Linked DNA regions of Homo sapiens: region 2 is linked to region 1. A link means that fine-mapping ties the variant in region 1 to the expression of a gene that starts in the linked region. Tissue or cell type: whole blood. Region 1 holds a variant in brackets; the other region holds the start of a gene. All regions are shown on one strand. Distances are between the middles of the regions. Region 1 overlaps CAMK4 (calcium/calmodulin dependent protein kinase IV). Region 2 holds the start of CAMK4 (calcium/calmodulin dependent protein kinase IV).

Evidence for each region. PIP is the estimated chance that this variant, and not a neighbour inherited with it, causes the effect.
Region 2: CAMK4 starts here. The variant in region 1 is fine-mapped to the expression of CAMK4 in whole blood (TOPMed, PIP above 0.99).

What each region holds. Positions count from the first base shown.
Region 1 is chr5:111,261,460-111,264,368 of GRCh38, forward strand. All of the region lies in intron 1 of CAMK4 (calcium/calmodulin dependent protein kinase IV), which reads left to right. Among named protein-coding and RNA genes, the nearest start is that of CAMK4, 39 kb to the left of the region's middle. The variant C/T (reference allele first, on the strand shown) is at 1,674.
Region 2 is chr5:111,222,951-111,225,859 of GRCh38, forward strand. It overlaps CAMK4 (calcium/calmodulin dependent protein kinase IV), which reads left to right and starts at 1,434. Exons shown (of 11, transcript NM_001744.6): 1 at 1,434-1,694. The coding sequence starts at 1,534. RefSeq lists enhancers at 563-662, 1,623-1,672 and a silencer at 1,023-1,512.

The sequences.
Region 1 (2,909 bases):
GTTTCGAGGATAGCCTCATGTAATCACAAACAACCATAGCAATAATTATCTTCAGTTTCCTCACCTCAATATCCTTATAGTTTCCTTCTCTGACCCTAATAGTTTTTTTTTTTTTTTCCAGGTCACCACAATGACTTTTTCTGCTTCCAAAGTTGGAAAAGAGCCATCTTTTTAAAAATTTTAGTGTCACGTTTATCATGCAAAAGTTGGAGAGAATGCCCTCCATCCCTACTTCTGTTGTATTCTCTAATGACTTATGCATTGATTACAAGCAGAATTTGCCTCTTACCCCTTCAGGTATGGGGCCCTGCCTATGACTCACTGTTCCTTACTGCTTCTCTCCCCTTGTGAACCAGTTTAGGCTCTCTGGGGCTGGGATATGTGCCAATCTGGGGACTATGATCTTCTTAAAAGTATTTTTTTTTCCTCTTTACATGCTTAGCCATTGTCCAGAGGCAAAACTTGTGCAGCAAGCCTTCTCTTTTCTTTGGGGTACACAGCCTGGGATATTAAGGAGAAGTCCTTATCTTTGAGAGTTTAATACTTTTGAGGTCTTAGGTCTGCAGAGTCATCCTTGTGTTCGTTCACTAGCACCTTACATGGGTTTCTGAGCCCCTCACTCTGCTGACATACCTTCACAGGCAGTAGAGACACAGTTTAAGGTCCTCATTCTGGCACTTGATGTGTAAAAGAAAAATTGCACTAGACTAGCTAAACGGGCAAAAAAAAAAAAAAAAGACATTCAAGAAAATTGCAATAGAGGAGAAGGATTGAACTCAACTCCACTAAACCAAAGGGGGAGGAGTTTCTAAGCACTGGGGTGAGCTGGTGGAAAATTGCGGGAGGATGTTAGTGGAGGGCTGATCAACATGATTGGGCCACTGGTGCTTATTGAAGTTAGGCTCCCACTCTCCTACAGAGGCTGAGAGGGTACTATCTTTCTTGATTACATGTCAAAAGGGATGGCTCCCAGGTTCTTGAGAAAGACATTCCTGGGTTGTAGAATATTTATGTCTTAAAGTAGCAGAGCAAGAATTTATAATGGAAAGTTTTCTAAAGGAAACACATTTTAAAAAGGAGGTCAGAGGCCTTAGGAAGAAGCCTGTCTAAAGTTGAATCAATCTGAGGGGGATTTTATGGCCATCTTTTCCAGATGCATAAATATAAACTAAAAAGTAAATAATGACCCACTTTACTTGCTTTCATGTGGCTTTTTATATTCCATCAATAACAATGAAATCGGTTATGCAATAGGGCAGTTGTTATTATTAAGGAAATTTATACATAGATTGTAATAATATGCTAAAATTGTGAACAATTTGTCTCCCAGGTTCTGTCCTTTTGAACAAAAACGGAAATACACTTCAAAATAAATGCTTTGCAATTACTACTTTTCTTTCTTCTGACTTACTATTTATTAAAGGTGAATGTATTTATCACACAGACAGATACTTTGGTTTGATTGGTTTGTATCATTGCTTTCTCTTTGTCATAGAAGTATCCCTTAGAGTGAGTCTTTTGGCAACATATAAAGTGATAATTTAACCCCCTGGCTGAGTTGTTTCTAATATAAGTGAATCATACTAAGCCAGAGGGCAGATAGCTGAAGAGAAAGGAAGTAGTAAGACAGCGAAAAGAGATCATAGTTCATGTCCCCATTTTTCTAAAGGGAA[C/T]ACTTTCAATGATAAATCTTGACTATGTCAGGTGATTTTCCTTTTTTCACTCTGTGGAAAGGTGTTTCATCAGTTTTCCATACCTATTATGTGAAATATATTTCATAAATACAGCTGGTGATCTTCAGGCAGTACTGGAACTTTTATGTTATATACATCATAATTATTGTTAATGGTAAAGTTGGATGGAATGAGGAAAATGAAGGAAAGATAGGAATTGGGTCAGGGCTCTGACTGAGTGGCCAGTGAAGGCTGTTAAGGGACAATAAATAATTTGAGCTCTTTGGGAAATACTGTTATTTACTTCTCTACTTTTATTTCCAGATTTCTTCACAACTCCATTTCTTTTCTGTTATTACTCCCACAGCAGTCTACTTCTTCCAAACCTTATCATCATTGCCATGTCCATTTCATCTCTACCCTAATCCAGTTCAACACCCTACATCTCAAATGGCCTATTGAAATAATCTCTTTATTGGACATCCTGCTATAATCCATTTTTAATATAAACTTTAAAAAATGTAAACCAGTCCAAATTGTTCTGATTGATAGCTGTATAACCCTCCCATAGCTTTCCAGTATGCTCAGAATAAATTCCAAACTCTTAACTGTGGCTCTCAAAACCCCCAAAATAGGCTCTAGACTCTGTAAAGGGCGGAAGCAGTGTGGATTCTGTACTTAGTGTATTCTGATAGCCACGTGTCACTATGTACTTTTTCTTTGTGTCTTCACGTCTCCTCCTGTTGCATTTTAAAGCACTTTCATAGTATGTGGTTTTGCCTAATAAAGCATTCTCATAGAAAAAAAAAGCCACCTCACCTCTTCCCATTCTTCCCCTGGTTTATGAGTTCCCAGGAACATTGTCCTTTCTGTCTTTTGAAACTGCCAAGCTTACTACTTTCCTAGGGCATTTGCCCTTATTGTTCTCTCTCCGTGGACAGTTTTGCTACCCAATTTTTGAATGACTGGCTCTCTTTTTTAAATGTAGTTTGGTGTGATGTTGACTTGGTTTGGTGGGAGTTGTGGGTGGAGTTGTGTTGTTGTCTGTGGTCCTGCTGCAAGATGGTGGCAGGTGTTGCACAGGTGCCTTGGGGATTGTCAGCTTTGTTGGTGTGATTTGCAGTTATCTTGGTGCAGCAGTGGCTCTGTTCCATGTGCAGTGGTTACCAGTCGCTCCAGGGGTTTGGTGTGCCGATGGTGATGTCAGCTGCCTGGGTGGTTGATGTATAAACAACT
Region 2 (2,909 bases), 39 kb before region 1:
ACTTCTCACCGTGGTTGAGGGATGCATGACTATATATATTTTCAATTTCCAATCAGCTAGGAATCACATTCCTGTAACTACTTGATTGGATATTTTTGGTTGTTTGTTCACCAGTATAGCAGGCAGGCTTTTAAGAATAATAAATCCATAAATTAGATTAAAATATTGGACCATATTAATGGTTGGTGCTATCAGGAATGGAGACTTACTAGGAAGAGTTTAGCGCATGTTGGAGGAAACTCAGGAAAAAAAAAAGGCCAAAAGTAACACCTGTGAAGTAAGGTGAAAGCGCCTGGAGCTATTTAGCCAGAAATGAGTTGTGGTATAATAACTGTCATAGATATGTATCAGAACATGACTAATTGTTGTTCGTCTTTGCTGAAATCTGAAAAGAAAAAAGTTCAAGGGTAGTTTAAGTGATGTATGTTTAATACTGAGAAGAAGAGCCATGACAGCTGATGGACAGGACATAAGAATGCTTATCATGGGATACATCTCTTGGGAAGAGAAAAAGGGCTTTTACATGTAGCAGTCTTCCCTGTCATGAATGAGGACAGGTCCTGCCTTAAGGCAGAGGGTTTACTAGTTGGCTTCCACAAGGCCCTTCTAGAACTGTAATTCTGAGCCACTTCAGATGCTGAGATTGAACTCGACACAGCCAAGTATCTCCTCTTTTAGGAGCTCCAGCAGTGCCGAGGAGGCAGTGCCACCAGCAGCGACGACAGCATTTATTCCAACTGAAGACTTCACTCAAAGGTGAGTCAGGTCAGTGTGGACCTGGGCGCTTCCTTTTCCTCCAGCTCTCACTGGGTCCAGGCACAGGAGCCCTGAGGGATCGGCGACCACAGTACTCCCTCCCCGGCCACCAATATAAGCTTTGACAGAGGATGGCTGGTTAGCTGGTGTTAGGTGGGAGGGACTCGCCACGGAGACGCGCTCAAGGAGGGATGAGTTGCGCCACCACCACCTAGGTCCCTCTCTCGCTATCCGGCGGGGCCGCCCGGACCCAGGTGCTGCCAGGGTACGCCTGGCGCCCGCCATCCCAGAGCAGCGTCCCGCTGCGCACGGTCTCCCTCCAGCTCCGGTCCCCGCGGGAGGGCGCGTGGGATGATGCGCGGGTCCTTGTGCCTTCCCCAAGCTCCAGCATCCGGAGCCGCCCTAGCCGGCACCGCGGCAGCCACAGCCTGGGAGAGAGAAAGGAAAGAGGGAGGGCGGCGGGAAAGGCTCGGCGCGGGAGGAGGGCGGGTGAGGAGGGAAGGAGCGAGGGGGAGGGAGCCTCTCTCCTCAGCGGTGCAGCTAGTCTCCCTCCAGCGGGCGGCGACTCCGGGTTCCCCCTCGCGCCCTCTCGCAGAGGCTCGCCCCCTTCCCCGCCCACCGTCCCTGCGAGCGCGGGCGGCGGCGGTGGGCGTGTGCGCGCGTGAAGGACGCCGCCTCTCTCTCGCTCCTGCGTTCGCAGGCGGCGGCTGGCGGCCGGCTTCTCGCTCGGGCAGCGGCGGCGGCGGCGGCGGCGGCTTCCGGAGTCCCGCTGCGAAGATGCTCAAAGTCACGGTGCCCTCCTGCTCCGCCTCGTCCTGCTCTTCGGTCACCGCCAGTGCGGCCCCGGGGACCGCGAGCCTCGTCCCGGATTACTGGATCGACGGCTCCAACAGGGATGCGCTGAGCGATTTCTTCGAGGTGGAGTCGGAGCTGGGACGGTAAGGCGCGGGCTCCGGCTGGGGAAGCCCGCGGCGTGCACTGGGGGTTGTCCCTCTCGCAGCGACGGCTCGGAGGGTGCGGGAGCCTGCCTTCGTGCCCTTCGATTTCTCCCTACCTAGTTAGTGTCTTGAGAGAGAGCTAACCTTCATTCAGGTGCGGCTCGAGTCCTTCCCACCCCACCAGAGCGCCTAGGCCGGTGCAGCTGTAGGATCAGCCCGACTCCCTCCCACCTTCCCTCCTTCTCGCAGGCTGCCACTTCCCTTGGGTGACAGCTCCCACCGCACGTGGGCCCTGCTTTCCCAATTGATATCTTTGCTCACGATTATAGCTTGCCAGAGGGTCCTGTTTGTCTAGTTATTGTTTAGGGTGGGGGCCGGAGGGTGCCCCTCCAAATCAAGACAGAATTATTAAGTTAGATTCCTCCTCCTTCCCCTCGTCAAGCTCTCCAAAGCAAGTGACACGAGAAATTAAACTTAAATACTAGCTTCCCTGCAGAGTCTGCTCAGGAGTGAAGGGAGAAATGAATCATTTAAGAGAGTTGAAGGCAGAATAATGAACTAGTGTGGCTTTAAAGAGAAAGCAGCATATGGGATCCAGGCAGTGGTAATTAGTGAGAATGCTGCTGCTTCCCTTCTTTCATGGGCTGGAGTGATTTATTTAAATTATATATGCAACAGACCATCTCCCTAGGATTGCAGATATGTCCCCTATCCCTCCTCTGAAGATCCAAACAGGTAGCAGTTTGGCCTTCTGCATGATTCCATATGCTTTCGTATTTGTATCCATTGAAAATTATAGTTTTCTTTCCCTTACTTCCTTTTTTTTTGTCTTTTCTCTCTGTTATCCATAGGTAAGGAGATTTATTTTCAACACTTATTTTAGATCCAGGCTCTTTAGTATAGGGAATCTGAAGATGTAATTTCAACGGTTGACAAGTTGCAGCTTCTGTACTTACTACTCCTTTGCAATTTCATTTTTCATTCTCTTTTTGCTGGAAATAGTATTGCTAACAGCCTTTTTATTTTTTCAAGTCATTGGAGGATCCAGAGCAGGATTCTGGATGTTGGTATTTAGTGGGAAGATGTAATGATCACTGCCCACTCTCCCCCCACTTTGCTAGTACTATTGAAGGCTCATTGAATATAGATGTGTAAAATAGGCAAACTTCTGAATGAAAATTCAGTGATTTGTCACTGTTAAAAATGTTTTGAAGT